Regions from separate parts of the Homo sapiens genome. Here regions 1 and 2 are each linked to region 3. The links come from fine-mapping of genetic effects on gene expression. A gene starts in region 3. Each other region holds a variant in brackets. All regions are shown on one strand. Distances are between the middles of the regions.

Region 1 (10,833 bases), 240 kb before region 3:
GTAAATTAGCCATGACTGACCCTGGGCTAAAATTGGGAAGGGAGATTTACCTGTGACATTAACAATGGCTTTTTCTCAGTCACCTAACAACAAATTTCAATTAACAGCCACTAATGAGCAAAAATGAGAGCCTGATTTATATTTTATCAGATCATAAGAAGAACATTTTTTTCTCTTTCACAATTATCCATTTACTTTCTATTTTGAGTGTATCTTTTCTAGTGTCCTTGACTATGCAAGCTGTCTTTTGAGGGAGTGAGTTCCTTGTCACTGAAAGTAGTTAAGCAAAGACTAGACAATACTACATGTAAAGGGAATTCCTACATTAGATGGAAGGCTGGATTGGGTTCATTCCAAATGTAAGGTTCTTCAGTCATTTGAAACTTTGAAAAATAAAGTCTTTCTCCAATGTTTGATCCAAGATAAGGTCTGAAATTGTGCCAAGAGTGTCTTTTTAAAGACAGATAATAAGAACTTTACATTGCCTGGCCTAGCACGGTGGCTCACATCTGTAATCCCAGCACTTTGAGAGGCTGAGGCGGGTGGATCACTTGAGCCTAGGAATTTGAGACCAGCCTCTACCAAAAAAGATACAAAAATTAACTGGGTGTGGTGGTGCACACTTGTAGTCCCAGCTACTCAAGGGGCTGAGGTGGGAGGATTGCTCGAGCCTAGGAGGCAGAGGTTAGGGTGAGCTGAGATCGCACCACTGTGCTTCAGCCTGGGCAACAGAGCAAGACCCTGTCTTGAAAGAAAAATAAAAGATCTTTACACTGCCTTGAATTCTACTTTCCTCCTGCTTCTTGAGAACATAGTATTTCTCCATGTACTGCATCTTCTACATCATGCAAAAGAAATTTGTTTATATTTAGAAATACAGATGGTCCCCAACTTAACAATGGTTCAACTTACCATTTTTTGACTTTACAGTGGTACAAAAGCCATATGCATCTGGTAGAAACTCTACTTCAAATACTCATACAACTGTTCTGTTTTTCACTTTCAGTACAGGAGTCAATAAATTACATGAGGCATTCAACACTTTATTACAAAATAGGCTTTGTGCTACATGAGTTTGCCCACCTGTAGGCTAATGTAACTGTTCTGAGCACATTTAAGGTAGGCTCGGCTAAGCTATGTAGGTTAGGCAAATTAAATGCATTTTCAATTTACAATATTTTCAACTTATGATGGGTTTATAAGGAGGTAACCCCATCATGAATCAAGGAACATCTGTACAATAAATATAAAATAACCTATCTGAATAAGGACAAACCTGAGCTTCAGAAATTACAGGTTGGGCACAGTGGCACACACTTGTAATCCCAACACTTTGGGAGGTAGAGGTGGGAGGAACACTTGAGCCCAGGTGTTCAAGACCAGCCTGAGCAACATAAGGAGATCTTGTCTCTACAAAAAATAAAAAATTAGCTGGGTATGGTGGCATGCACCTATAGTTCCAATTACTCAGGAAACTGAGGTGGAAGGATCCTTGAGCCTGGGCGGTCAAGGCTGCAGTGAGCCACGATCACATCACTGCACTCCAGCCTGGACTGCAGAGGGAGACTCTGTCTTGAAAGAATGAGAGAAAGAGAAGAAATTCAAGTAGATAATAAAGAGGAAGCACCAGAAGAAGAAAGCAATGTTAGTAAAAACTGAGAAAATAAGACAAGTTAGATAAAATTCCACTTTCAAAAGTTAAGAACAGTTTTGAGACTATCACCTCCTTTTCTCCCAGGCCCCTCTTTGAAAATGAGTTGAATCTAATAAGTACTTTAGGGGATACTAAATTAATAAACCATAATAATTTTTTGTTTAACTACAATGTTTAGTATTTCTTCTAGTTTTACTTTTTTTTTTTTTTTTTTTTTGAGACAGAGTCTTGCTCTGTCACCCAGACTGGAGTGCAGTGACGTGATCTCTGCTCACTGCAAGCTCCACCTCCTGGGTTCATGTCATTCTTCTGCCTCAGCCTCCGAAGTAGCTGGGACTACAGGCGCCCGCCACCATGCCCGGCTAATTTTTTTTTTTTTTTAATTTTTAGTAGAGGCGGGGTTTCACCATGTTAGCCAGGATGGTCTCGATCTCCTGACCTCGTGATCCACCCGCCTTGGCCTCCCTAAGTGCAGGGATTACAGGCATGAGCCACCGCACCCGGCCTAGTTTTACTTTTTAAACTGCTTCTTATAAAGCCACAAAACTATGAGATTTCATATTTTTTAAACTTTTAGTTTTACAAGTATCAAAACTAAATGCATTTTAAATAAATTTATAAAATTGGTTATAATTAAATTTTGGAGTTAAATCACATTTACTTAAATGTAATTAAATTTTATTTATCATATTATAAGCAAACTCAGTTTTACATGATACATTTTTGTGTTCTTAAACTAATAAATTACTTCAGATCTGTACAAAGTATCTTGAAAGTATTAATATGTTCCTGCCTTTTCCAGATTTTACTTTCCTCAATAAATGAAAGGTCACCCAGGGTTTCAAATTTTCAGAGGTGTTCTCTATCTTTATTTCACTCTCTTATACACCCATACATATGCTGGTAAAAATACAGTTTGACGATTGTAAAATAGTTGTAAAAGTTGTAAAAAAAAAAAAGTTGTAAAATAGTCATAGATACAGAGGTTTCTCTGTAAGGGTATTCACCACAACAACGTTTATACAGTTTTAAAATTTGAAACTCAAGGCTGAGAATTGGAGCCAGCAAAAAAGAAAATTGAAACAACTTCTCTTTCTAACAACAGGAATAGTGTAAAGCATTATGGCCTTGACTTTTGGAGTCAGACAAATCTGGGTTTGAATCTCAGGTCTTCCATTTACTATCTGTATAACCTGAGACAAATTATTTAATTGCTCTGAGCTTCTGTTTCTTATTTTGTAAAATGGGGGAAATCGTAACTGGTTTTTTGGGGTTTGTTTTTTTTTGAGATAGGGTCTCACTCTGTCACCCAGGCTGAAGCATAGTGGTGCAATCATGACTCAGTGCAGCCTTGACCTCCCAGGCACAAGCAATCCTCCCACCTCAGCCTCCTGAGTGGCTAGGACTACAGGCCTGTGCCACCACACCTGGCTAATTTTTTTTTATGTTTTTGTAGAGACAGGGTCTTGCTACGTTGCCCAAGCTGGTCTTGAACTCCTGGGCTCAAGCGATCCTCTTGCCTTGACCTCCCAAAGGGGTAGGAGTACAGGTATGAGCCACCATGGCTGGCCTGAAATTATAATTTTTTAAGGGAAGGGTGATGGGCAAGTTTAGGGCAGAGGAGGATCTCAGTGGCCAACATTTTCTCACTGTTCATCCTGTAGCTATGGGCTATCCTAAATAGAAGATCCCTTAGGATAGTAGACTGGATACATTGAGATGCTACAGTCATTCCAGTAAGCAGAAACTGATGAGTAAGACTAATATCTGCTGGTTTCACATAGGTAGTAAATCTAAATATTTTCACATCTTTCCTCAGGGATAGAGACTTACCAGGATCTCTTCAATGCCAATTACAACACAAAGAAAAGAAGCTAAGTGCTTCACAAATGGCAGGTAATGAGAATCATCCTCAAAATTGAAGCATAACAGCTCCTTAATATGTCTGATCCTTTCTTCTCTAAGAAAGATCTGAGATTTCAAGGGTTGTCTACACCACCATCATTTGAGAGAAAGGAAAAAAAACCTTACATTTTTGTGGGACAGGAGGGAAATTGCTTTTAAATGGACATCTCCCTAGAATTTAGGCAGTGCTGGTCAAATAACTGTATTCAAAGAAGAACTTGTGGGTATGGAAAAGAACAAACGCAAAAAGAACAAAAATAACAAAAGAACAAATATAAATCAAGTAATAAAGAACACAAACACAGCTACAGTCCTAGGATTTCTCAAAGAAAACAATATAAAATGAGCTACACTGGCTAAAGTTTATTCATCCAAACAACAAATATTTATTTAATGCCAAAAATGTACTAGGCGTGGGAAACAACAAAACAAGTCAGATGTGGTCCCTGCCCTGATAGGAAGTCTAATAGGGAAGACAGGCTGTTAAACCATGAACTTGCCAGGCACGGTGGCTCACGCCTGTAATCTCAGCACTTTGGGAGGCTGAGGCAGGCCGGGCCGATCACCTGAGGTCAGGAGTCCGAGACCAGCTTGGCCAATATGGTGAAACCTTGTCTCTACTAAAAATACAAAAATTAGCTGAGCGTGGTGGCGGGCACCTGTAATCCCAGCTATTTGGGAGGCTGAGGCAGGGAGAATTGCTTGAACCCAGGAAGCGGAGGTTGCAGTAAGCCGAGATCGCGCCACTGCACACCAGCCTGGGCGACAAAGCGAGACTACGTCTCGAAAAAAAAAAGCCATGAACTTGCTGAATAAATCATTTAAATTACAATATAACACAAGTTATGATAGGAAAAGCATGGAGTGTTATAGGAGCTTAAAGGAAAGCCTCCTAATTTGGTCTTGTGAGGGAAGAAAGGGAGTCCCAGAGAAGGCTGAATGACGAACAGGAGTAAATCAGGCAAATAGCGCTGACAGGAGTTTCTAGGCAGAAAGAGCAGAATCTACAAAGGCCAGAAAAAAGGGAAAGCATGATGCACTAGAAAAATTCAAAGAAGTCAAGTGTGGCTGTGTTTGGGTTGCATCTGGTTTCTGAAGAGGCTGATGCTTTACCCCACTAAATTTAGAACCAATTTAGAAATTGACCCAGGAGACAGAAATGAATCAAAGAATCAATCCACCTTGACCAGCCCTGACAGGGGCAGTCCCTCCAGGGCCACCAAGGCCCCAGATAGCAAAACATCAAATATGGAAACTAGAAAATGTGTTCTTTACAGTGCTTAATCCCCAACTTTCCTATGAGAGGTTAATTTGTTCATTCTATAATCAATCAACCTTTATTGCTGGGAATTTCGGTTT[G/C]GAAAACACAAAGGATTGTCATGATCAGATTGGCATTTTTCATTGTAAAACTGAGCTAAATGCCTTAATAATAACAGCTTATGGTTTTATAGACCTTTAAGGTTTCTAAAGTGCCTTAAGATACTTTGGTACTCATTTTAAGGGGTCTATTTTAGTCAGATATGGTGAGACAGGCAGACGCAGAAATGATGGCCACAAAGGAAGTTTTTCATACTCACAGATCCCTAGAAACAGGGCACAGCATGCCAAGCATGTGGGGCCACAAGAGGAAGCACCAGGGTCAGTCAGGAAGTGGGCAGGGGCAGCATGTGGACAAGAAACTCTATTGTGGTTTCTGCAAGAAGGAATGGACAAGGCAGGGTAAGCAGGTATGGGGTTAGCTAGTTTAAACAATTTCAGTGGGCTCTGGCATGTAAGGGCTGTCCCTAGTTGTCTGGTACCTAGCCCTGGGATGACTAGGGCAGGGAAGTAGTGTCTCTGACTGTAAGAGGTGGAGAAGGCAGGTGGTTGAGGATATGGTCTCTGGAATATGGTCTATGGAATTGGATGGTTTGCAGAGGAAAGACACACTCACAATCTAGTAGTCACTATTCTAGGAATTGACCAGCCCTGAGAGGGGCAGTCCCTCCAGGGCCAGCAAGGCCCCAGATATCAAAACATCAAATATGGAAACTAGAAAATGTGTTCGTTACAGTGCTTAATCCTCACAACTTTCCTATGAGAGGTTAATTTGTTCATTCTACAAATATTTATTGAATACTTCAAGATCCCCAGCATCTCCCATCCTTACTGTCAATTGGTCTGCTTACTTTCCCAAAGAAAACTGAAGCAATCAGATTAGAATTTCCGTAGACCCTCACCTCCATGTCTACCTCCTTACCAGCATCTGTATCCATATACTCTGCCTTCCACCAACTTTTTCTATTTGAGCAATAAAAATTAATAATATAGAATTGATTATAACCCAAAGTATAAAATAAACATCCATGAATCCACACTGATAGAAATAAATGACTAATTATTTAATTTTTATTTATTTATTTATTTTTTTCTGTGCAGTGGTGCCATCTCGGCTCACTGCAAGCTCCGCCTCCCAGGTTCACGCCATTCTCCTGCCTCAGCCTCTTGAGTAGCTGGGACTACAGGCACCCGCCACCACGCTCAGCTAATTTTTTGTATTTTTAGTAGAGACAGGGTTTCACCATGTTAGCCAGGATGGTCTCGATCTCCTGACCTCGTGATCCACCCACCTTGGCCTCCCAAAGTGCTGGGATTACAGGCATGAGCCACCGTGCCCGGCCATAAATGATTAAATTTTCAATAGGAAGAAGAGACAAATGGCAGAGGTAGCAATAGCCGGAGGGGGAAATGGGGTCACAGTGTACTTTTTAAGGGAGAAACAGCAAAAGTTTATACAACAATAGGATTGATATAATAGAAAATGAAAAAATGATATTTCCCTTACCTAAGAGGAGACCCTTTCTTCAGTAAATTCTTTGAATATGAGAGAGGGGATGAGTTCCAATCCACAAGGGAGGGATTGGCTCTGGGTAAGAGCATACAGTTTATTTGCAGCGCAGAGAGAAAGGAAGATCATGCAGGTACAGGTGCTGGTCAGGAAGTAGACATGGAGGTGGGAGTGTGTAGGAATTCTATTTCTCTTCTTTCTAATCATCCACCCAGAATTACTTTTTCTTTTTTCCATGGTACATACCACCTTCTAAAATGGCATCTAGTTTACCTATTTATTACATTTATATGAAGGCACAGATCTTTGTCTATTTAGTGCACTAATATATCCAAAGCACTTGGAGCAATACCTGGTCCATGGAAAGCATGCAATCAATATTTGTTGACTGCCTACTAACATGCAAGAGATAGTGGGAAAAACAGAAACAAGTCAGAGATAGTTTGGTTCCAGCCCTAGAGAAGCCTACCTTTTATCAAGGAGAAAGATGTTACCTTTTACATTACACACTTACAGAGCAGGTATCGTTATCTCTGTAGGAGATTAATCACTGTTATACATAGAGACGCTGAGACTTGAATGTGATATGAAGTAAGTTTTATTCGGGTGTCATTTGGGATATATTTTGTTCCAGGTTTATTTCGTCATTCTCTAATTTCAGAAAATACATACCTAATTTTGGCTCCAGTTAGTGCCTTGACTATTTCTTTGAAAAACTTTGGATTATACAAAACATACATACACACATATGTGATTTGGGTCCAATTTGACAAATTAGTTTTCTATTGCTGCTGTAACAAATTGCCACAAACATAACAGCTTAAAACAACACAAATTTATTATCTCACAGTTCTATAAGTCAGAAGTCCAGGTGGGTACAGCTGGTTTCTCTTCTCTGTGTCTTATAGGACTGAAATTAAGGTGTTGGCCAGCCTGTCCTTAGCCAGGATGGTCTCAATCTCCTGACCTCGTGATCCACGAGGATCTCCTGGAGGAGAATCTGCTCCCAGTCTCATTCAGATTTTTGGCAGAATTCTGTTCTTTTTTCTTGCAGGGCTGACATTCCAGTTTCTTTGCTGTTTATCAGCCAGGAGCTTCTCAGCCTCTTTAGCAAGCAGAGAAGCTCCTGGCTGATAAATCAACAATGGTGGGTCAGGTCTTTCTCATGCTCTAAACCTCTCTGATTTCTGCCACGTCTCTCCAGCTTCTAGCTATATAAGGGATCACGTAATTAGATTGAGCCCAGAATAATCTATCTTAATTATATGTGCAAAGTCCCTTTTGCCATGTAAGATAGCATATTCACTGGTTAAGGGATTACAGTGTGGATATCTTTGGAAAGCCATCTTACCTACCAACACTTGGTTTTGCAACAGTTAGTTCATTCCAGTTCAAGTTCCGTGGAAGGATACTGTCCTTTATAAGAAATGTCTATTAAGCACTCATTTTTTTCGCAATCCTTTTTTTAGAACATGATCTCCAGTCAACTATATTGTCTGTCCTAGTCCTATTAGTGTATGTACTTCTTCTTGAACAACTGTCCTGAATAACTTAATCCTATCTCCCCAGCTTTCCAAGATGCCTACAACTTCTTCTACAAGGACAAAACTGGCTGTATTGATTTCCATGGACTGATGTGCACTGTAGCTAAGCTGGGAATGAATCTGACCAAGCATGATGTCTATAATGAATTGAAATGTGCTGATATTGATCGTGAGTCCTTTGGCTTCTCATTGTTTTTCTCATAAAAGATTTTTGTGAATATATAGTTTTCTTTTAATGACTGTATAAACATGAGAAACAAATCTTATTTACTTGCCCCCCCAAATATATATATATTTGTGTGTATATATATATTTGTATATGTTAAATATATATATACACAAATATATAGTACAAATATATATATTTGTATATTATATGTTTGTAGACTATATATTTGAATACTATATACAAATATACATATATGTATATATCCATATATCTATGTATACACCACACACACACACATATATATATAGCCTTAAAGGGACACACACATATATGTGTGTGTCTGCGTGTGTATGTATGTATGTCCCTTTAAGGAGATCAGTGAGGTATGTGTACAAGTTGTGAAATCAAATTAATCCTAGAAAATGGACTATTTGAAAAACACTGTGTGGAAGCTAAGAGTGATTGTCTGATTTCAGTATCAAATTCAGGTTACCTGTCCTGATGTACAAAAGCAGTAACAATGTTAATAATGACATGTTACCAAGAGAATTCAAGCCTTTTGTTTCTGTTTGAATCAAAACAGAACAAATCTTTCTTTTTCCATCAAGTCCCACCTATATTGAATTTTAAATGCCACAGCACTTTTGTTGGTATTTTTAAAGCATACAGATAATGTTTTTTTTTTTGTTTGAGACGGAGTCTTGCTCTGTTGCCCAGGCTGGAGTGCAGTGGCGCAATCTCAGCTCACTGCAACCTCCGCCTCCTGGGTTCACACCATTCTCCTGCCTCAGCCTCTTGAGTAGCTGGGACTACAGGCGCCCGCCACCATGCCCGGCTAATTTTTTGTATTTTTAGTAGATACAGGGTTTCACCGTGTTAGCCAGGATGGTCTCGATCTCCTGACTTCGTGATCCGCCCGCCTCGGCCTCCTAAAGTGCTGGGATTACAGGCATGAGCCACCATGCCCAGCCATAGATAATGTTTTTAGTGAATATACTGACCGAATTATTAGTAGCCCAAACTGATATGCTGTGTGAAAAATATATTCAGCATATTATCTCCTCTCACCTCTCTCCACCCAACTGCTAGTGCCCTACTCAATCAACATCAGTTCCACCTGTCATTCAGTGTCACTTAAGGTGTCACTTGCTTCTACTAACTGTGTCAAAATTTTCTATTATTTCATGGAAACATACACATACCCCTCTAATAATACTCATCATCCTTCAATTTTAGAGGAAATGGAATACAGCTTGGGGATGTTATAATAGGAATAATAGGGGTGGTTATAGCATGGGAAGACAGGACAGATTCCTTGCAAACATGGCCAGTCTCTGAGAAAGGAGCAGGTGGACAGACTGCAATGGCTGGGTGCTCCTGGCTGGATGTTTACAACCACCGTTGCTTCTGTGGGCTGTGGAGGACTGATGTAATGGTGCTAAGACCACTTCAAGAAGACCAGGGCTCACCTGAGCATATTTCCAGCCCTCAAATGCTCTGTTTTTAATATTGAATCATCCAGAGTGTTTTAATTTTTATATTTAATATATACTCTGATAATTAAAATACATCTTATCCTTGTCCTGAGTCTCAGATTTTTGTTGCAGGAGATGGGAAGGTGAACTTCTCAGACTTTATCAAGGTTCTAACAGATAAGAATCTCTTCCTCAAGGCAGTGGGTGAGTAGAGATGTTATGAACAGAAGGCAGTTGGGCAGCTACAACTCACTGCACAGCAAACATCATTCACAGGCTTCCAGTCGGGAGACAGGTCAGGAAGGTGTAGTCTGGGATGTGAGTTACTTTTGTACCTCTTCTCCAGAACAGTATTTGCTAAACAAATTGATACAGTGTTAACTACATCAAGCAGGCACTTGCACTGTCCAAACACCTACTGCAAGAGACACTGCCCTTTGGTCTCCAACGAGAACACTGAAAGAGTGACTGGTGTAGAAAAATTTGGCTGCCTTCTATAATGTCTGAATTATTTTGTCTTTTTTTTTTTTTTGAGACGGAGTCTTGCTCTGTCACCCAGGCTGGAGTGCAGTGGCACGATCTTAGCTCACTGCAAGCTCCGCCCCCCAGGTTCATGCCATTCTCCTGCCTCAGCCTCCCGGTAGCTGGGACTACAGGCGCCCGCCACCATGCCCGGCTAATTTTTTGTATTTTTAGTAGAGATGGGATTTCACAGTATTAGCCAGGATGGTCCCGATCTCCTGAGCTCGTGATCCACCCGCCTTGGCCTCCCAAAGTGCTGGGATTACAGGCGTGAGCCACCACGCCCAGCCTATAATGTCTGAATTCTTTACCAAGTGTATGCAGTACTTTGGGAGGCATTCCTTTTATTTAAAAAAAATTTATGTTTCAGAAAAAGAAAAATGTACTCTCTCATGTAAATCTAGGGTGTCGATAATTTACTGTTCTTGAAAAAATACCTTCCCCACACTGATGAAGACTCTACCCTCAGTGCTAGGGCTGGAGAGTCTGCTGGAGGTTAGAGAGCATTAAGGTGTCACGTGCTTCCACTAACTAATAGAAAATAATTTTTCTATTATTTCTCCCCCAAGGTTATAAATGATGTGTAGTTGTACTTGAAATATTGTCATTAATCCCCTCATGGTTTGTTTATAAGTTTAACAGGCTGCCTTGGAAAAGCTAACCATTATTCATGTTTTCTAGGATAAACATTCCAAATTCCAAATACTGTATACAGTTTTGAAAATATATTCATTCAT
Region 2 (10,833 bases), 160 kb before region 3:
GGCAGGCCCCGGAGGGTCCCCGGCAAGAATGGTGGAGGAGGCTGGAGATGAGATAGAGGCAGGGTTGGACCACCTGGGCCTTATAAGCCAGAAGGAGCTGAGATTTTTTTTTCACTCCAATGAGCAGCTATGAAAGGGTTTTAAGGGAGGGAGTGACCAGATCTGATTTACATTTTAAAGAGATTAGCACTGTGGAAAGTGTACTGTGGAGGTGGGGCAAGAGCTGAGAGCCACATGGAGGGCCCTGGATACTTCTGGACTCTGAATGGGGGGCCAGGCTTCAGCGATGTAGGTGAGGATGGAGACAGGTGGGTCCAAGAGGACCTGTGGGTGGAGGGGCTGGAGGGGGAAAGGAAAGGCTGTTATCAAGGATAAATGGTGGTGATGGTCGTGCTGTTCTGCTCCTGAGCTGGGGAAGAAGGGAAGACATGAAGACTTCTGTTCAGACCCATTGAGGTACCCATGGCACACACACATGGAAGTGTGGAGAAGGCAGTGGAACATGTCAGTCTGGAGTGGGGGACACAGGTCAGGGCTGGACGCCCCTGGATGCTGGAAGTGTGGGTGGCATCAGTGCACAACTGGTGTTTGAAGCCACAAATCTCTGAGTTAGGGAGGAAATGGGAATGTGCTGTGAACCAGAAACTCAGAGGAAACTGCCCTTGTTGAGTCCCTGCTGAAGACAGAGAATGAAGACAAGATAGAGAAGGATTCTTTCTTTCTTTTTTTTTTCTTTTTTGAGATGGAGTTTCACTCTTGTTGGCCAGGCTGGAGTGCAATGGTGCCATCTCAGCCCACTGCAACCTCCACCTCCCAGATTCAAGTGATTCTCCTACCTCAGCCTCCTGAATAGCTGGGATTACAGGCGCCCACCATGCCCAGTTAATTTTTGCATTTTTAGTGGAGATGGGGTTTCGCCATGTTGGCCAGGCTGGTCTCTAACTCCTGACCTCAGGTGTTCCGCCCTCCCAAAATGCTGGCATTACAGGCGTGAGCCACCGCGCCCAGCGAGAAGGATCCTTTAGATCTGGTAATGCAAGTGGCTCCTGACTTTGACCAGAGCCCTCTGGGTGGAGGGAGGAATCTGGAAGCCAAATTGGGATGGGAAGGAAGAGTAAAACAGCATGATCACCAGTGCCTGGCCTCATCTCATCCCTGCCTGGGCTCTGGATTAAAAAACAGCTATGAGCCGGGTATAGTCCCAGCTACTCGGAGGCCGAGGCAGGAGGATGGCTTGAGCCCAGGACGTTGAGGCTGTGGGTGAGCTACAATTGCACCACTGCATTCCAGCCTGGGTGACAGAGCAAGACCCTATCTCTGAAATAAAAAATATTTATACTTAAAAAAATAGCTATATAGGACATTTTGGGGGCAAATGGGGAAATTGGAAAATGGACTCCATATTAGATAATACCTTTTTTTGTTGAGACAAGGTCTCACTCTGGCATGCAGGATGGAGTGCAGGGAGCTCACTGCAGCCTCAACTTCCTGGGCTCAGGAAGTGATTCTCCAGCCTCAGCCTCCTAAAGTGCTGGGATTACAGGCGTGAGCCACCACGCCTGGCCTGTATTAGATAATATATAGCAGCTCTGAATTTGTTGTGTGTGATAATGGTGTGTGGTAAGAGAGAAACTGTAGGAGACACACATTGTAGTATTTAGGGCAGAAAGAGTAGATACTTGAAACTTTCCAGTGCTCCAACAATAACAAAAAATTAAACACATACCCCATACACAGAGAAAGCACAGATGGCAAAATGCTAATTGGAAAAATCTAGGTGAAGAATATTTTAATATTTTTTCAACTCCTCTTTCAGCTTAATTATTTCCTTACAAAGTTGGGTGCAGCCGGGTGCAGTGGCTCACTCCTGTAATCCCAGCACTTTGGGAGGCCGAGGCGGGTGGATCACCTGAGGTCAGGAGTTCAAGACCAGCCTGGCTGACATGGTGAAACCCCGTCTCTACTAAAAATACAAAAAATTAGCCGGGTGTGGTGGTGCATGCCTGTAATCCCAGCTACGTGGGAGGCTGAGCCAGGAGAATCACTTGAAACCCAGGAGGCGGAGGTTGCAGTGAGCTGAGATTGCGCCATTGCACTCCAGCCTGGGCAACAAGAGCAAAACTCCGTCTCAAAAAATTTAAATAAATAAATAAATAAATTAGCTGGGCGTGGTGGCGGGCGCCTGCCTGTAATCCCAGCTACTCCGGAGGCTGAGGCAGGAGAGTAGCTTGAACACAGGAGGCGGAGGTTGCAGTGAGCTAGATCTTGCCATTGCACTCCAGACTAGATGACAGACTGAGAACCTGTCTCCAAAAAAAAACTAAGTTGGGTGCGGTGGCTTACGCCTGTCATCCCAGCACTTTGGAAGGTCGAGGCCGGCAGATCACTTGAGGTCAAGAGTTCAAGACCAGCCTGGCCAACATGGTGAAACCCCATCTCTACTAAAAATACAAAAATTAGCCGGGCTTGCCGGGCACGGTGGCTCACGCCTGTAATCCCAGCACTTTGGGAGGCCGAGGTGGGCGGATCACCTGAGGTCGGGAGTTCAAGACCAGCCTGGCCAGCATGGTGAAACCCTGTCTCTAATAAAAATACAAAAATTAGCCGGGCGTGGTGGCAGGTGCCTGTAATCCCAGCTACTCAGGAGGCTGAGGCAGGAGAATAGCTTGAACCCAGGAGGTGGAGGTTGCGGCGAGCCAGGATCACACCATTGCACTCCAGCCTCGGCAACAGAGCGAGAATCTGTCTCAAAAAAAAAAAAAAAAAAAAAAAAAGAGGCCAGGCGCGGTGGCTCACGCCTGTAATCCCAGCAGTTTGAGAGGCCGAGGCAGGCAGATCATGAGGTCAGGAGATTGAGACCATCCTAACACAGTGAAACCCCGTCTCTACTAAAAATACAAAAAATTAGCTGGGCATGGTGGTGGGCGCCTGTAGTCCCAGCTACTCGGGAGGCTGAGGCAGGAGAATGGTGTGAACCCGGGAGGCAGAGCGTGTAGTGAACCAAGATCGGGCCACTGCACTCCAGCCTGGGCGACAGTGAGACTCCGCCTCAAAAAAAATTTTTTTTAAATTTTAATTACAAAAAGGAAGGGTGACTAGCAGGGTCAAGAGAAAGTTTCATACAATTGAGAAATTTTTTGAAGAATGGGAGCATAAATGTGTGTTGAAAGCAATGCTCATGGAAGGGAGGAGGAGAAGGTGATTATGTCAGCCAGGGGTGAGAGGTGCAGGGCAGAATCCTGGAGGAGCAGGTGGATGGCCCAGAGTGAGGGCCTGGAGGGTGGCCTTTGCCCAGTGTGGGGCAGCCACACGTCAGATGGGCAACTTGGTGGGGGGCTTTCCTGTCTGATGACTTCCCCTCTGTACTCTACGTAGGATATGGGGCTCTCTGCTAAGAAGGGCCAGGAGAGCAATGGGGAGGTTCCCGCAGGGAAAAACTGGTGGGATTTGTGGGTTTGTGTTGACGATCTGGGTGAAGATTGTTTATTGGTTTAGGGAGGGAGACAAGAGGAAAGATTAAGTCCCCACACCTCCAAGACTCAGTTTCTCCATCTGTAACATGAGGAGATTGAACTAGGAGATCTCAAAGGACTCTGAACTCCAGTACGCTCATGGTCCCTTTAGGAAGTGATGGGAAGCATATACTGAATAGCACGAGCCTGGGTTATTTAAGAATTAAGGATAGTGGCTGCTCTGCCTATGGAGTAACCATTCCTTTTTTTTTTTTTTTTTTTGAGACGGAGTTTTGCTCTTGTCACCCAGGCTGGAGTGCAATAGCGCGATCTCGGCTTACTGCAACCTCCGCCTCCCAGGTTCAAGCGATTCTCTGCCTCAGCCTCCCATGTAGCTGGGATTACAGGCATGCGCCACTACCACGTCTGGCTAATTTTTGTATTTTTAGCAGAGACGAGGTTTCACCATCTTGGCCAGGCTTGTCTTGAACTCCTAACCTAGTGATCCACCCGCCTTGGCCTCCCAAAGTGCTGGGATTACCGGCGTGAGCCACTGCACCTGGCAGAGTAGCCATTCTTTTATTCCTTTACTTACTTAATAAACTTCATTTCACTTAAAAAAAAAAAAAGAATTAAAGATAGCTAGTAAAAACTAGACAATTGCCTAAGACGTTTCTAATTGAGGATTAAAACCAATAAATACAAGAAGGCCAGGCATGGTGGCTCATGCCTGTAATCCCAGCACTTGGGGAGGTTGAGGTGGGCAGATCACCTGAGGTCAGGAGTTCGAGACCAGCATGACCAATATGGCGAAACCCTGTATCTAATAAAAATACAAAAATTAGCCGGGTGTGGTGGCGTGTGCCTGTAGTCCCAGCTACTCAGGAGGCCAAGGCAGGAGAATTGCTTGAACCTGGGAGGCAGAGACTGCAGTGAGCCAAGATTGTGCCACTGCACTCCAGCATCCTGAGCGACAGACTGAGACTCTGTCTCCAAAAAAAAAAACAAAAAAACCAATAAATACAAAGAGGCACGTGAAAGGCAGACTGCTGGCCAGGCATGGTGGCTCACGCCTATAATCCCAGCACTTTGGGAGGCCGAGGCAGGCACATCATGAGGTTAGGAGAGTGAGACCA[T/TC]CCGGCTAACACGGTGAAACTCCGTCTTTACTAAAAATACAAAAAATTAGGTGGGCGTGGTGGTGGGCACCTGTAGTCTCAGCTACTCAGAGGGCTGAGGCAGGAGAATCGCCTGAACCCGGGAGGTGGAGGTTGCAGTGAGCCCAGATCTCGCCACTGCACTCCAGTCTGGGTGACAGAGCGAGAATCCTTCTCAAAAAAAAAAAAAAAAAAAGAGAAAGAAAAAAGAAAAAAAAAGAGAGGCGGGTGTGGTGGCTCACACCTGTAATCCCAGCACTTTGGGAGGCTGAGGCAGGTGGATCACCTGAGGTCGGGAGTTGGAGACCAGCCTGACCAACATGGAGAAACCCCATCTCTACTAAAACTACAAAATTAGCCAGGCGTGTAATCCCTGGCGCATGCTTGTAATCCCAGCTACTCGGGAGGCTGAGGCAGGAGAATCGCTTGAACCCGGGAGGCAGAGGTTGTGGTGAGCCAAGATCACACCACTGCACTCCAGCCTGGGCAACAAGAGCGAGACTCTGTTAAAAAAAAAAAAAGAAAGAAAGAAAGAAAAGAAAAAGAAAAGCAGACTGTTTAAGGCTTCAGAGCACCCCTGGGGGAGTGAGGAGGTGGCCCAGAGGCCGAGGGCTCTGAGATGCATGACGAGGTGCTGTTTGGGTGAACACGGTGCGGGGTCCTTTTCAGAGTATATACTGCTTTCTCCTTGCTCTGGCCGAAGTTCACATCACACAGCATGAAGTGAAACAGCACATCAATGTGATGAACACGGTTAACACTGAAGAAACCTGTATGTGCGAGCAAATATAGCATGAAAGGGTTCAGGGAATTTTTTTTTTTTTTTTTTTTGAGACTGAGTCTCACTCTGTTGCCCAGGCTGGAGTGCAGTGGCACGATCTCCGCTCACTGCAACCTCCCACCTCCCAGGTTCAAGCGATTTTTCTGCCTCAGCCTCCCAAGTAGCTGGGACTATTGGCACGTGCCATGATGCCTGGCTAATTTTTGTATTTTTAATAGAGTCGGGGTTTCACCATATTGGCCAGGCTGGTCTCAAACTCCTGACCTCATGATCTGCCCACCTTGGCCTCCCAAAGTGCTGGGATTACAGGCATGAGCCACTGTGCCCGGCCGTCCTGTTTTTTGGTGTGTGTGTGTGTGTGTGTGTGTGTGTGTGTGTGTGTGTGCACGTTTGAGAGGGAGTCTCCCACTGTTGTCCATGCTGGAGTACAGCAGTGTGATCTCGGCTCACTGCAACTTCTGCCTCCCAGGTTCAAGCAATTCTCCTGCCTCAGCCTCCTGAGTAGCTGGGATTATAGGCATGTGCCACCACGCCTGGCTAATTTTTTGTATTATTAGTAGAGACAGGGTTTCACCCTGTTGGCCAGGCTGGTCTTGAACTCCAGGCCTCAAGTGATCCACCTGCCTCAGCCTCCCAAAGTCCTGGTATTACAGGCATGAGCCAATAGTGCCTGGCCAATAGTTTTTTTTTATTTTTATTTTTAAAGGGACAGGGTCTCCCTCTTTCACCCAGGCCGTAACCCTGAACTGCGAGGCTCAAACGATCCTTCTGCCTTAGCCTCCCAACTCCCAAGTAGCTAGGACTACAGGTGCACACCACCATGCCTGGCTAATTTTTAAATTTTCGGTAGAGACGGGATCTTGGTATGTTGCCCAGGCTGGTCTCAAACTTCTGGCCTCAAGTGATCCTTCTGCCTCAGCCTCCCAAAGTGCTGGGATTACAAGCGTTGTGCCACAGTGCTCGGCCAACAATAGATTTATAATATCACTGAGGGCAGGGATTGTGAGTCATCACCAGCTCCCCAGTGACTGGCAGCATGCCAGGAATGGGGGAGGGGAGAGAGGGAAGGAAGGGAAGCTTCTCGGCCTGACAGTTCAGCCAGGTGCAGGCACTGTCATGTTCATGGCCACCAGGCATCTGCCAAGCACCAGGCTCTGTGCTGCCCACTTTACACAGATGGTCTCATTTGGCCTTGATGACAGCCTGTGGAGGTTGGTATTATTTACTCCAAGAGGAAACTAAAGGCAGAGAGTTTAAGTAACTTGCCAAAAGTCACATGGCAGAATCAGGATTTGAGCTCAGATATGTTAAACTGAAGCTTGTGCTCTTGACTGCCTGGCTGTGCAGTCTTCCAGAAGAGCACGGCATGGACTTCTGGAATTCTTGCAGCCACTCGACTCAAAAGCAGTTAGCATAGTGCTGAGCACAGGTAATAGGGCATTTGACAAATGCCAGTGACTGTAGACCGAATGATTGACAGTCTGAAAGAATGAATGAGTGAAGTGACTTCCTGTCTTGTGAGGTTTTTCTCTTCAAATGGAAGATTTCCCCATAGCCTTTGAATGCTCAATCTAATTAAGGCAAAAAGGCATCAGAGAATTGCAGGGCCTTTCCTTTATTAACTGTCAAGTCCAATCTGGAGGCTGTTTATGTGCCAAGGTCAGAGATCAGTCTTTAGCTGCTCTCCTCTCATTCATCTGGCCAACCTCAGAACATAAAGTTTATTGATGCAAAACTGATTGGCAGGCTGGGCTAACGAGCTGGCGGGAACAGGGAGTATCAGAAAGAGTTCTAAGCCAGCGTCGGCTCGGCCCGGCTCCTCTGCTGTCCTAACTTCCCTGTGCTCTAGGTTGCAGGGTCGCACCTTTCAGAAGTGAACCCCAGAAGAGTAGCAAATACTGCCTGGCCTTTTGGCAGTTCTTATGGAGCCCAGTCAAGAGCAGGAGGGGGAGCAGTCCTTTTTCCTGGTTTTGTCTATTAACGTGGAAAGAGCGAGGCATGGAAGATTAGGTAGTATAGTCTTTTTTTTTTTTTTTTTTTTTTTTTTTTTAGACAGAGTCTTACTCTGTCGCCTAGGCTGGAGTGCAGAGTGCAGTGGTGTGATTTCGGCTCACTGCAAGTTCTGCCTCCTGGGTTCGTGCCATTCTCCTGCCTCAGCCTCCCAAGTAGCTGGGACTACAGGCGCCCCCCCACCATGTCCGGCTAATTTTTTGTGTTTTTAGTAGAGACGGGGTTTCACCGTGTTAGCCAGGATGGTCTTGATCTCCTGACCTCGTGATCCGCCTGCCTCAGCCTCCCAAAGTGCTGGGATTACAGGCGTGAGCCACCGCGCCCAGCAGTATAGTCTTAAGACTTCACAAATCAAAGAAATTCCTGTGTAAGCCTCGTCAGGCCTAGGGGTCGTGAAGAGGAAGGTAACTGTTATGCCTACAGTTTGCAGCCAACCCATTAGTAAGCAGCGCCTGTCTGTGGGGAGCTCCTGGCAGTGCCTCCTCCTCCATGCCCAGCAGGAAAGAGAGGCTGGGAAGGATGCATGGGCCACATGCCTGGCTCTACTTGCAGTGCCCCCAGGATAAAAGCCAGGAGGCTGGCCGGGCACGGTGGCTCATGCCTGTAATCCCAGCACTTTGGGAGGCCAAGGTGGGTGGATCACGAGGTCGGGAGATCGAGAGCATCCTGGCTAACACGGTGAAACCCCGTCTCTACTAAAAATAAAAAAAATTAGCTGGGCGAGGTGGCACGCGTCTGTAATCCCAGCTCCTTGCTAGGCTGAAGCAGGAGAATCTCTTGAATCCAGGAGGCCCAGGTTGCAGTGAGCTGAGATCGCACCACTGCACTCCAGCCTAGGCGACGGAGCAAGACCCCGTCTCAAAAAAAAAAAAAAAGCCAGGAGGTGGGCAGTCAGGAGAGACAGGTGGACCTGGGAGCTGTGTCTTCTACTCAAGATAGGGAAAGTACAACTCCCCTGGTTATTATCAGGACCAATTGATTTTGCCTGATCTGAGAGAAAACATCCTGACCACAGGTCACTTGAAATGCCCTGTAATTCAGAAACAGTGGCTGTCCACAGCAGACAGCTATCTGGATTTAAGACCCCAAATTCACACACCACACCACAAATTGTCCACTTACAAGCAAAAAAATAACAAACAGCCAAGCCCCCAACCCACTCTCATTTTATTCCCTTGGTTCCAGGTCTCCTCTGAGCAGGTCATGTCTCCTGGTGTGTTTGCGTACAGGCTGTGGGGCTGGGGGGAAGGAGTCCTTTTTCCTCTTACCCCAGGCAGGGCTGGCTCCAGGTTGCAGAGCTCCACAGAGAAAACTGCTCACTGCAGAGAAGGGCATAGTCCAGCCCAAGCTCTACTCTGATGAGCTCTGAGATCGGGGGTGGTGACTTCATCTTCTATCTATGGCTTGGAACAATGATGATGACCATGACCCTCTGGTTTCAGTTCAGTCAATGAATGGGGAGCAAATTGCTATTGTCAGGCACTAGGCTAGGGAGGTGATTCAGAAAGGCTCCCAGAGACCCACACACCAATCACTAAACTAATATAACACGCTAAATACTACATCTACAGTAGGGATAAAGTGTTTTAGGTACACAAAGGGAGTTGAGAAAAGCTTCAGAGGTTTTCAAAGTGGTTTCCAGACCATCATCAACCAGCCTCACCTGGAAAGTTGTTAGACATACAAATATCAGCCCCACCCCAGACTGGCTGAATAAAAAATTCTGGGGGTGGGGCCCAGCAATCTGCGTTTGAACAAGCCCTCCAGGTGATTATGATGCAACCTAAAGTCTGAGAATCACGTAGAGGTTGGAAAACTACCTTGCAACCAGCAACCTGTTTTTGCAAATAAAGTTTTATTGGAACACAGCCATAATCCATCATTCAGACATTGTTTGTGGCTACTTCCCTTTTAACCAGCAGAGTTGGTAGTTACGACAGAGACAATATGGCCCGCAAAGCCTGATTCTGCCAAATGACTAGACTAGATTTCCCATACTAGGGAGCATAGCCTAGATTTTTTTTCTTTTCTTTTTTTTGAGACAGAATCTCACTGACACGCAGGCTGGAGTACAATGGTGGGTTCTCAGCTCACTGCAACCTCCACCTTCTGGGCTCAAGTGATCTCCCAACCTCAGCTTGCCGAGTAGCTGGGACCACGAGCATATGGCAACATGCGCATCTAACTTTTGTATTTTTTTTTGTTAATTATTATTTTTTGAGACCGAGTCTCGCTCTGTCGCCCAGGCTGGAGTGCAGTGGCGGGATCTTGGCTCACTGCAAGCTCTGCCTCCTGGGTTCATGCCATTCTCCTGCCTCAGCCTCCCCAGCAGCTGGGACTACAGACACACGCTGCCTTGCCCGGCTAATTTTTTGTATTTTTAGTAGAGACGGGGTTTCACTGTGTTAGCCAGGATGCTCTCCATCTCCTGACCTCGTGATTCACCCGCTTCACCCTCCCAAAGTGCTGGGATTACAAGCATGAGCCACCGCGCCCGGCCCTGTATTTTTTTTTAATGACATAATTTTATTTATTTATTTACTTTTATTTGAGAGGGCGTCTAGCTCTGTTGCCTGGGCTGGAGTGCAGTGGTGCGGTCTCGGCTTACTGCAAGCTCCACCTCCTGGGTTCATGCCATTCTCCTGCCTCAGCCTCCCAAGTAGCCGGGACTACAGGTGCCAGCCACCACACCCGGCTAATTTTTTTTTTATTTTTAGTAGAGACTGGGTTTCACCTTAGCCAGGATGGTCTCGATCTCCTGACCTCGTGATCTGCCCGCCTCGGCCTACCAAAGTGCTGGTATTACAGGTGTTGAGCCACCGCGCCCGGCCTAGAAGACGGAAGTTTGCATGTTGCCCAGGCTGGTCTCCAACTCCTGGGGTCAAGTGATCCACTGCCTCGGCCTCCCAATGTGCTGGGATTACAGGCGTGAGCCACTACACCTGGCCTCTTTTTTTTTTTTTTTTAAGAGACAAGGTTTCAATATATTGCCCAAGCTAGACTCAAACTCCTGGCCTCAAGCAACCCTCCTGCCTCAGCCTCCTAAGAGGCTGGAACTACAGACAGGTGCACGCCACTATGCTTGGCTCCTGTCTATGGCGGAGGTTGCAGTGAGCAGAGATTGTGCCATTGCACTCCATCCTGGGCGATAGAGCCAAACTTTGTCTCAAACAACAACAAAATCCCCTTAGAGCTCTTTCCTAGCAACCAAACGTTTTTCCATTTTGTTAGGAATTGGAAGAAGAGAGGAAATAACTGGCTAAGTAACTACTCTATATCAAGCACGGTTACAAGGCATTTTCCAACATTATTTCAATTTTAATGAAAGCTGCTCATGAAATTAGGTTTACTGGGTCACAGTTTTCAGATGAGGAACCTGGGACAGGTGAAGGGACAGAATTGGAACCCAGTTCTGTCATACCACAGATGCCCCACC
Region 3 (10,833 bases):
CTGAGATTATAGGCATCCGCCACCACACCTGGCTAATTTTTTGTATTTTTAGTACAGATGGGGTTTCACCATGTTGGCCAGGCTGGTCTCAAACTCCTGACCTCAGGTGATCCACCCGCTTCAGCCTCCCAAAGTGCTGGGATTACAGGCGTGAGGCACCCCGCCTGGCCTAAGGATTCCTCTTCTAATACAGGCCTTGGGTTGGAAGTGAGTGGATATAAACTCAGAGGCTTTCCTGGGATCGGGGAGCCCTTCTAGGTGTTCTCCACAGAAGGGAGAAGGGAAAGAACCTAGAGAAAGTGGGCAGAATTTTTGTCAGGTTGTAACTGTGGCTGGATGAATGGTGAGGAGGGCTGGGGTGGACCAGTCAAGAGAAGACAGACCAGCTATAAGGTTCCCCAGTCATGTGGGCGTGGGAAAAAATAGTTCCTTTAAGTTACCCTTGGAAGAGGTTGAACTAGATATTGAACTATGGGTCTTTCTGAATCCTGAGCCTGCCTTCTTCCTTCCCTCTTTAGCCCAGTCCCCTCTAGGATCCTTGGTGGTGTAGACGAGGGTGTAGCCAGATGGACTTGGAGTGGATTGCCTGAGTGGAGCCCCGGGGATTTGAGATGCAGGAGCCAGGGAGAAGAGAGGGTGAGACCCACTTGGGCCAGCCCCACATTTGGCCAGTCCTCTTCCCTGGCTTGGAGAAGGTGCAGGGTGGGGCAGGTCATACAGAACCCTTTGGGGTCACTGCCTCTTTTCTAGTTGCCTCAGGCAAGGACTGGCCAAGTCTTTTTTTTTTTTTTTTTTTTTTTTGAGACAGAGTCTCACTCTGTCACCCAGGCTAGAATACAGTGGCGCAATCTCAGCTCACTGCAACCTCTGCCTCCCAGGTTCAAGTGATTCTTCTGCCTCAGCCTCCTGAGTAGTTGGGACTACAGGCGCCCGCCACCACACCCGGCTAATTTTTGTATTTTTAGTAGAGAAGGGGTTTCACCATATTGGCCAGGCTGGTCTCAAACTCCTGACCTTGTGATCCGCCCGTCTCAGCCTCCCAAAGTGCTGGGATGACAGGCGTGAGCCACCGCACCCGGCCCAAGTCTTTCTTTATAGCCTCCTACCCTACCAAGCCATCCAGTTGCATTTTCCCTCCCTGTCTTGAGTTCTTCTTTCCTAAGCTTCTGTTGTAGACCTGGCCTGCTGGAGTGCTCTGCTCCCCTGGGAACCCTCTGGCTGGAGAGGCTCCTGAGCCACAGAACCAGAGAAGAGGAGAGTAATGCCAGAGGATCCCTAAGCACAGTGAGTAATGACACCAAAACTTACACCTCACAGGGCACCTGAGACTCAGGGAAGGGAAATGACTTGCTCGAGGACATGTGGCTAGTGAATGGCAGAGCCGGAACTCCACTCACCTCCACTCCCCAGGCCTGGACTCACCCCACTGCCCCATGCCGAGCTGTTTATGGACACACATTTATTAGCCAAAGTGAGCATGCTTCTTATTAGATTACTTTACACTTTAGGGTACCATTTTTGTACACAATTAAATATGGAGATGTTCAGAAAATGCAGGGATGTTGTATTGTTTTCCCAGGCAAAGTAAAACTCAATGTTACAATCCGATAAAACTGATATGTGCAGATTTCATGGGCAGGGTAGGGTGGGAGGGTAGGGGAGAGACAGGCAGGGTGAAGGGTAAGGACCCTGATGTCCAAATGGCAAAGGAAGATGGGAGATGGAGGAGACCACATTCCCTGAACATCCCCATTCATCCAGCGGCCATGCCATTGCTTTACACTTAACATTTAACTCCCAAGGTAGGAAACATCTCAAGTTGCCCCATTTACAAGTAAGAATTATTGTGAGCTCAGAGTTAAAGCATTAATAACTTGCTGCAGGTTACAAAGCTGGGAAATGGCGAAGTCAGGATTTGAACTCAGGTTTCTCTGGATCCAAAGTCTGTACTCCTTCCACTAAACTGTTTGATTGATTGATTGATTAAAGACAGGATCTCGCTCTGTTGCTCAGGCTGGAGTCCAGTGGTGATTATAGATTCACTCCAGTCTCAAATCCCGGGGCTCAAGTACTTCCCCTGTCTTAGCCTCCCAAGTAGCTAGGACTACAGGTGCATACCACCATGACCACGCCCAGCTAATTTTAAAAATTTTTGTAGAAGTGTGGTCTTGCTATGTTGCCCAGGCTGATTGTTAACTCCTGGCCTCAAGTGATCCTCCCACCTTGGCTTCCCAAAGAGCTGGGATTACAAGACCTGAACCGCCACACCTGGCGTAAACTGGTTTTGATGAAATTAGCAGACCCACAGGGGGTGATGCTAATACAGGATTAGACCATTCTCTCATTGCTATAAAGAAATACCTGAGACCAGGCCGGGTGTGGTGGCTCACACCTGTAATCCCAGCACTTTAGGAGGCTGAAGCAGGTGGATCACCTGAGGTCAGGAGTTTGAGACCAGCCTGGCTAACATGGTGAAACCCCTCTCTACTAATTAGCTGGGCATGGTGGCACGTGCCTGTAATCCCAGCTACTCAGGAGGCTGAGGCAGGAGAATCGCTTGGACCTAGGAGGTGGAGGTTGCAGTGAGCCAAGATTGCACCACTGCACTCCAGCCTGGGCAATGGAGTGAGACTTGATCTCAAAAAAAAAAAAAAAGAAAAGAAATATCTGAGGCTGGGTAATTATAAAGAAAAGAGGTTTAATTTGCTCATGGTTCCACAGGTTGTACAGGAAGCATGATGCTGGCATCTGCTCAGCTTCTAGGGAGGCCTCAGGAAACTTAAAATCATGGCGGAAGGGATGCAGCAGTTCACATGGCTGGAGCAGGAGCGAGACAGAGAGTGGAGAGGTGCTGCACACTTTTAAATGACCAGTTCTCGTGAGAACTCACTGTCATGAGAACAGCATCAAGAGGATGGTGCTAAACCATTCATGAGAAATCCACCCCCGTGATCCAATCACCTCCCACCAGGGCCCACCTCCAACACTGGGGATTACAATTTGACATGAGATTTGGGCGGGGACACAGATCCCAAACCATATCACCCTCAGTACCTGTTGCTGGCTGACAGTTGGTCAGTGTCTAGGGGAGAACCATTCTCAGCTTCAGTTCCACGATAGCGAATACCATCTTGGCAAAAATCCCCTGGACAAGTCAGAGACCTCACTAAGTCTCCAGCATCTAGCCTGATGCCTGACACATACTGACCCTCAATAAACGGCTGTTCAACTGTGGGCACAGGAATGGTGAGGAGGCTGTGGGCACAGAGGACGCTGGCCCTTCTTTGGAAGCAGATGAAGGTCTGGGTGTTGATGAGGGGTTCCTCGAAAGTCCCATGCTGCTCACAACACCCAACACTCCTACAGACTGTGACCATGTTCTGTTGACAACTGAGCCTGCACAGGATCTTTATGCAGTAGGGAACCGGCCCGGATTCTCCACAGGGAGAATCTCCCAGATGTTTCCCCGCTTTCTGCCCCAAAGTCAAGATCAAAAGCAGTTGGCAGCTGCAGACATCAGCAGAAGTCAGTGGAACACAGTGTGGAACCATGTCGCGCTGGAGGAGGAAGTCTCGCGCTGGAGGAGGAAGTCTCACCCTTGACAGAGACTAGAACTGGGCCTTAGAAGCTTGAACCAACCTCTGTCCCTGCGAGAGCAGCACACTTTTGTGCTCCTCAGCCCTTGCGTCTTCTTTGCCTGGAATATGGCAAAACGTTTATTTTCCCCCACTAAATGAGGCTCCTCTAGGGCTGCAACTGTGTTTGCCCATCTCTCTTTCTCTAGCAGCTAGCACAGGGCTAGCAGTCGGTGCTTGTTGAGCCGGTGGGTGAAGAGACGAGAGCACACCTCCTGTGTGCCCGGCATGGCGGGACCTGGTGCCGGCAAGTGGTGGGCTCTCTGGCCTCATGCTCTGCGCTGGTGATGTCAAGGGGTGGGCTTCTGTCCTGCCACTGATAGTAGGAGGGAAGGCCAGCAGGAAACGCCGAAACCTACTCAAGCTGCTGGAGAAGGGGGAATCCAGCCCTGTTTCAGGGGAAGGAGTATCCTGTGTTCTGAGAGCGAGAGAGCAGCTTAGCCGGCAAATCCTTAAATCCTTCAGAGATTACAGGATTGTGCAAGAGGGAAGGCCAAGAGGGGGACCTCTGAGGCAGCTCCAGCATGGCCTGTTGTGTGCAGAGGACTGAGATCCCAGAACATGCCACACCAAGAAGACATGTCCCAAGGGGCAGTGGAGCCACAGCCACCAGAAGGGACCTGGCCCTGTCGGACCTGCTGAAGCTAGCCGTGGAGTGCAGGGGCTTTGTTGGTCTGGCTGCTAACCAAAGGGTGGCTAATGGGACCCTTTCCAGGGGCCTCTAGGGGATTTCAGTGGGGGCTTGCTTCGAGGCTCTATTACCACTGGACTGTTTACCAAGAGCCTCAGCCTGACAGAGATGGGAAGAGACGAGTGAGCATTTCTGACCCAACACCCCCACTGCAGAGTTGGGGAAACATTTACCCAAGATAGGAGGAATAAAAAGGAAAAAAATTGAATTTATTTCCAAAAAACATACCAAGGTGGACAAGATAGGAAACAATACAATTTATATTACAGTTTTATTATTATTTAAAAATTTTATATTAACAAAATGAGATGGGATCTGCCTATGTTGCCCAGGCTGGTCTTCAACTCCTGGGCTCAATCTCCTCGGCCTCCGAAAGTGTGATTACAGGCGTGAGCCACCGCACCCGGCCCATATTACAGTTTCATAGTGTTTTTGATTACTCGTGGTAGGAGAAATGTGTCTTCTTTGCACTTGGGGTCTCAACGTCTCAGTCCTGCCCTATGCCCCGAGACCCCAAGAGGCTTTCCCAAGGTCAGGCAGGGAATCCGCAGAGAGGCAGGGCTGGACTCCAGCATCCTGACTCCCCAGTTCGTGCTCTGTGCTGCAGAGACCTGTTGCGTAACACTGAGTAACTGTGGATTGTCTAACCTTTTATGAAATTTCCAGCTGGTCTTTTGCTACCGGCCAGCAGTCCAGTTGGTGGGAGTGATGATGCCGGTCTTCTGAGACGTCCAGTGGACAGATTTTCCCCAGGTTTCTGGATGCAGCCCCAACAAGCAAAAGTGCTACACTCCTGCACCGGGAACACTGACACAGGGGTCACGAAAATGCTAAAACAAGACGTGCAAGAATTGTTGCGCTCCGCACACGTAACAAGGGCTCTGCCTCCCCCTCCCCCAATCTTCGCCCTGGTGGCCAGGCCCTGGGCTCCGCCCCTTCCCCACCAGACCGGGGGAGGGGTCCTCCTCGGCATGGAGGTAGGGGATGCTAGGCTGCTGGAGACGCCCGCAGAAAGAGGCGGGATGGCGGGGCGGATGCTGGCGGCCCGGGTCTGGCCACCTGGGTCAGCTGCACGCCCCCGCCCCGGGCTGGCCGGACCTCGTAGCCCAGGTCCCACCACGCCGTGAAGTTTGCGGAAAGTTTTGCAGTTGCTTCCCCGCCCGCGCCAGCGGGGGAGTTGTGACGCAGCGTCTGGGGATCCTGGCCGGGACAGAAGAGAGGGAAGGCGAGGCGGGGAGAGACTGGGAAACAGAGCAGCAAGAGAAAGGGCGCACGCTGGGGTCCTCCTGGACCCGGCGTGTCCTCCTCTCCGCCACCCCTTTCTCTCCCTCCCGACGCTCTAGCCCCAGACCCGCGCCTCCTCCCCTTCCCCTCCCACGCTGCCCACTTCCCTTCCCCTCTACCCCTCGAACCCTCCTCCCCGGTTCTGCGCTCCTCCCTCCGCCCTCCCTCCGCCCGGGCTGCCTCCTCCCTCCTCCTCCCCGGGAGGCATCACTTCGTCCCGACCCGGAGGAGGACGCGAGCCCCTTGCGGGCGGTCATCACAGCCCAGCCTCGGGGCTGCCACAGCGCGTTGCGCCTGTGCGCCCTCGGTCCCCGCGTCCACTGAGCGCCGCGCTCGGGGATGGGGCCCGGCCGGCCGGCCCCCGCGCCCTGGCCTCGTCACCTGCTGCGCTGCGTCCTGCTCCTCGGGTGCCTGCACCTCGGCCGTCCCGGCGCCCCTGGGGACGCCGCCCTCCCGGGTAAGGCGCTGCCAACTTGGCCAACTTCAGGGCCCGGGCGGGGGGAGCGCCGAGGCGCGGGCCGCTCTCGACTTTTCCCTCCTTTTCCCCCCTCTTTTCTCCAGAAGCGTGTGTGCGTGTGTGTGTGACTGGGTTTTTAAAACTCGTCTCCGCTTTTCTGAAAGCGGGGGAGGAGAGGGGAGGAGGAGCGCGCCTAGAGGTGGGGGAGGACCTGAGTGGAACCAGATGTGGCGGGCGGCGGGGGAGGGGAGCCCGGGGGACTCCAGCAGCCTAGGAGGAAGCGGGTGGGCTCTTGAGGACCCCCGCGCACCGCGCTCCCGGACCACCCGGCGCCGGCCCGTCCTCGGCAGGGGACCTGCAGGGCGCGCCCGGGGAGCCAGGGCTCTCTGTCCGGGAGTTCCCGGGCCCAGTCTCCTCGCTCTGCCCCAGGACTGATGCGTTAGGACGGCTTTCCAACTATCCGCGAGGGTTCGTTTCCCCCACCTTCCCCCCGCCCCCTGCATCTCGTGGGCGTTGATATTTTCTTTTCCACACTTAGTCTTCAAGGAGGCTTGTGGCGCGCGGCATCCGCCCCGCGTGAGCTCGGCAGCCCTGTGAGGAGGCTCCTGCCACTGGGACGCAGCAACAGGCTGGGCGCCGCCGTGCTGTGATGTTGCGTAGCGTGGGCAGCTCTGGGCACACTAGTGGCCCTCCAGAGGGGACAGACCTTGAGCGGCAAAAGAGCTGCTAAAGATTTTAAAACCCAACGAACAGGAAACAAAACAAAAATCAGAAAACCCCAAAACTGTGCCATTCTCTTCCTGCTCCTTATTCAGGGGTAACAGTGAAGTGTGGGGACAGACAGATCCCTCGCCAAGAATCTAAGAGTTGAAAGGAAAGATCCACTTCCTGGGGGAGTGGGGGTGGGGGTGTCTGGAGTGACCGGGGGAATCGCCCGGCCCAGCTTGGTCCTGCTGGCTGTTTAATTGGGGGATGGGGACAGTCCGTGCAGTGTCTGCAGTTTTGTGCAAGGACCAGACAGCCCCCTGGAGAGTCTGGGGCCTCCAGCCTGGCCCGTGCTTGCTGGGTTGGCCTGGCGTGACGTAGGCACAAGACACATATCTGCCAGATGGGAAAGGTGGGGGCCACGGTGACCCACATTCACACCAACCGGAGACCCCCGGGGCAATTCTGGGCCCACCTGGCATTGAATGTGGGACAGACACAAACCAGGCCGGGTAACCCCCTAACCCACTGCAGGGCGGCCTCACAGGCAGTTCCCCTACCTCCTCGCACTCCTGCCTTCCTCTGCTCCTCTGCGCAGGGCCTCAGGAGGCAGGCGGTGGGAAGGGGTGGGGAGGATGGCCATTCCCAGAGCTCCAGAGCACACTTTAAAGCCAGGCCCTGGGAGAGAGTTGTGGCCAGAGTGCTGACTCGGCCTTTCCCCCTGGAGCTTTTCATAGAGGGGGCTGGAAGTGCCTGGTGAGAGGCCCGGTCAGGGAGGACAAGGACGCCTGGAGTGTCCCTCCTCCTCCTGGTCTCTGTGCCTGGCCCTCCCTGGGGCTGTGTCCAGGGATGAATAGCCTCAGAGGGTCCCCTTCCCGTTGGCACTGCATTGACCACACCCTGAGGAGGCTTGGATCTGGGTGGCAGGCAGTGTGAGGTCTTCCAGCAGCAGCTGAGCAGGAGGAGGATGGAGCTGCTGCAGGTTCCTTCCCTCGGAACCGTGCCCTCTGCACAGAGTGCGCTTGCCCCTGCCCTGCCAAATTCCACTGGGCCCTACCCTGGGAAGCCTGTTCAGAGCCTCTGGGCCGAATTCCTTGCCCGAAGAGCTGGCAGCCCCTAGTACCTGGTGAATTACGTTGTTGTTGGGAGGAATTCACCAGCACCAGAGACCAAATAGCCCAGGAAATGCATGTGGGAGGTAGGGTGTGGCAGGCCAGTGCTGCTGGGGGCGAGGCTTATGCCAGGCAGGGCAGGGGCTGCGTGTGGGCAGTTTCCTGACCACCATGGGGGAGCCCTGTGTGCCCAGAGCACGGGGCAGGGGCAGCGAGGCGGCAGTGCCTTCTTGGTGCGTGATGGTGGAATCCATCTTTTCTCCACCTTGGTGGAGTGGCCCGCGGAGACTGTCACTGGAAGGAGTCCTCTTTGTTAGTTGCCATATTACCGCATTTCTGGAGCATGCAGTTTGCTCAGCCTTGAGCCAAGTTCTTGGGGAGGAGGGAAGGTAGAGAAGAGTGTAAGATGCATCCTCTGGAAAAAGAAAATCGTGTGGGAGAATGAAACGTGGAACAGTGAACTGCGTAGGGGGCAGAATGCCATTGGTGGGATGCCTGCCTGCCCAGACCCACGCTCAACCCTTCATGTGCAAGTTCCCATTTCATTTTGATAACAACCCAAGGAGATGGTTATTGTTGGACCATTTTTGCAGTTCAGGAAATGAAGGCTAAGAGGGGTCTGATCATTTACATTGGTCACACCCCTAGTAAGTGAAAGGCTGGAGTGTGGATGCTTCCCGTCTGGAGATTGGAGGCAGGAGAGACCGTATGGGCCAAAGGGTGGCCAAGGCTGTCTGGAGAGAGGCAGGAAGGGGCCACCAGGCTGGGCTCTTCTGGGGATGATGTGGAAGCTTGCTGGCTGGGCCGGGGAGAAGGTTGAGTGAAAGAGGTGCCTGGGAGGCCAGAATGGGGATGGGACCTGCAAGCTGGCTGTGGGGAACCCCAGGGGACCCTTGGAGGTTTCCGAGCAGAGGAATGAGGGGATAGTTGCTGGGAAAGGGGCTTCTGGGAGCTCCAGGGATCAAGTCTCAAGGCCATGGGGTGAGGAGACCTCAGGAAATCTTCCTGTGGGGAAGGTCGGTGCTGCCTAAAGGACAGGGAGGGTGGCATCGGGTACTTGGGGCTCTGACCAGAGTCAGCCAGACCAGCTCCCTACACTTCTGGCCCAGCTTCTGCTGAGTCGTGGGGTTCGGAAACTTCTTACTGTTCCCCCACGCAAAACTCAGTTTTCCTTGCTCCAACCCTCTGGCTCTCTGTGAGTCATCAGGGCCCAGGAGGTGCCCAGCCGAGCTGTGGCTAGTGCTGGGATCCTGGCTCTCTTCTGGGTTCACCTGGGCAAGGTGAGGGTACATGGAGGGGAGGAAGAACCCCGGGTTTTGGCCCCCATTTTTCGCACCAGAGAAATCCTGGCTTTCTGATGCACGTAGGGCACCGTGACTTGGCTCAATGAGATGATTTCGGAAGTGCCATGCAGTTCTCAGGCAGATATTCATTTGAGTTCCTCATCAGTTTAAGCATCGAGGAGGAGTCCTGTTGCACTGTCCATACCCCCAGAGGGATGGAGCGATGGCACCCACGGCTGCGCTGTGCATGTGGTGGGCGCCGTGCTGGGTCCTGTGCTGGCAGTAGCTCTTCGGCACCTCCCATCTCTGAGCAGGTGTCAGAGATTTGCACACACCTGGCGTGAAAATGTTAAAGATGTTAAGGGAGTCACTCAAGGCTGTGCCACCACACCACTAGAAGGTGTTACCAGTGAGATTCGAACCCAGGAGTGGTTACGGAGCCTGAACGCTCCAGTACCATACAGCGTTTCCATCGCATGAAGCACTGTCAGTGTGTGTGTGTTAGGAAAGCCTGGGAAATTCTGCCTTATGTGTTCTCCCCGCCCCCATAACTCCAAGCCCTCTAGGACACCTCTCAATGTGTCCCACCGGGAGGACTCCTGAGGAGGAGGGTGGAGCGAGCAGCCCTCTGTCACATGTCAGCGGTCTGGGCGCTTGGGTCAGCCACTTCCTTGTGGGTCCAGGAGGCCTGGACCGAGCCGCCTGCAGTGTCCTCAGGATCTCTGAGGGACCCCCTCCAAGAAGGCATTGATAAGTGAGTGACTCAAGGTGCCCCAGCATGGCACTCCAGCTTCCCTGAGGTCAAGGATTCACATGGTTGTTCATTCATTCATTCATTCCTTCAGTGGGTGTCTGCTGAGCTCCTGCAGAACTGAAGTAGAGATGGCCATGGCCTATTCTTTATTTGAGACCTCCCCACCGTGTCTCCAGTGGGGGTCCCTGGACTTGGAAGGCCTGAGCACTGCTGATAGGAAGCGTGTCTTCCTGTTCAGGCCTACGTGAGATGGGAGGGGGCCGCTTTCCCACGCCTGGGTCCTGTGAATCTGGGTGGGGTGGGCCAGTGGGGTGGTGACGCGCTCCTGGAGCTCACCCTGGGCCCTGCAGATCTGTCACTCTTCAGCTAGGGGTTGTACCAGTAAACGGCAGCTGGATGAGGGCTGTCCAGTGGCACCTGTGACACCGGGGTCTGCCGGGGTCCACCAGCTGCAGCCCTTTAGGAAACAGATTGGGTCGACCCCCTCAACTGCACACTGTGGCCCCTCGTGGAATTCCACCGGTTGTTTCCCTTCTTGCACTTCCCCCTGGCCCCTCGTCTCTCCTTCCGCCGCTGGGCACCAGCCTCTTGGCTCTGCACTCTCACAGCGCAGACCCTTCCACCTGCGCTCTGCTCCCCTCAGCCTCCCACTCCTCCTGATTTCTCTTTCTCTGACTGTGCATTCTGCCCTCCGCAGCTCTGGTTTTTGTTGTAGAAGAAGGACCAACTTCTTCCTAGTTTCCCCGGCCCCCCATGCCTCTGGTCTCTTGTCCTGCCCCAGCTTTCTCCACCTCCAGGCTTCTGCCCACGCACGATCACTTTGCCTGGTGTGCCTCCCCTCCCCTCTTCTTTCCCACCTTCCAGTGACCCTTCCTTCGAGACTCAAGGATCCTGGGGAGGACGCTGAGGGAG

The links. PIP is the estimated chance that this variant, and not a neighbour inherited with it, causes the effect. A credible set is the group of variants that fine-mapping cannot tell apart.
Region 1: its variant is the best candidate, but not a certain one, in a credible set for the expression of MRC2 in lung (TOPMed, PIP 0.71).
Region 2: its variant is the best candidate, but not a certain one, in a credible set for the expression of MRC2 in sun-exposed skin (GTEx, PIP 0.59).

What each region holds. Positions count from the first base shown.
Region 1 is chr17:62,383,867-62,394,699 of GRCh38, forward strand. It overlaps EFCAB3 (EF-hand calcium binding domain 3), which reads left to right. Exons shown (of 10, transcript NM_173503.4): 3 at 3,474-3,550; 4 at 7,956-8,099; 5 at 9,707-9,778. Among named protein-coding and RNA genes, the nearest start is that of EFCAB3, 8.7 kb to the left of the region's middle. The variant G/C (reference allele first, on the strand shown) is at 4,919.
Region 2 is chr17:62,464,481-62,475,313 of GRCh38, forward strand. It overlaps a transcript of TLK2 not described here. Among named protein-coding and RNA genes, the nearest start is that of TLK2, 8.9 kb to the right of the region's middle. RefSeq lists an enhancer at 1-387. The variant T/TC (reference allele first, on the strand shown) is at 4,589.
Region 3 is chr17:62,621,854-62,632,686 of GRCh38, forward strand. MRC2 (mannose receptor C-type 2) reads left to right here and starts at 5,817. Exons shown (of 30, transcript NM_006039.5): 1 at 5,817-6,067. The coding sequence starts at 5,950. LOC107985020 (a long non-coding RNA gene) reads right to left here and starts at 6,197. Exons shown (of 2, transcript XR_001752961.3): 1 at 5,992-6,197; 2 at 4,584-5,156. RefSeq lists enhancers at 3,542-4,042, 4,043-4,543, 8,698-9,554 and silencers at 5,737-6,176, 6,377-6,446.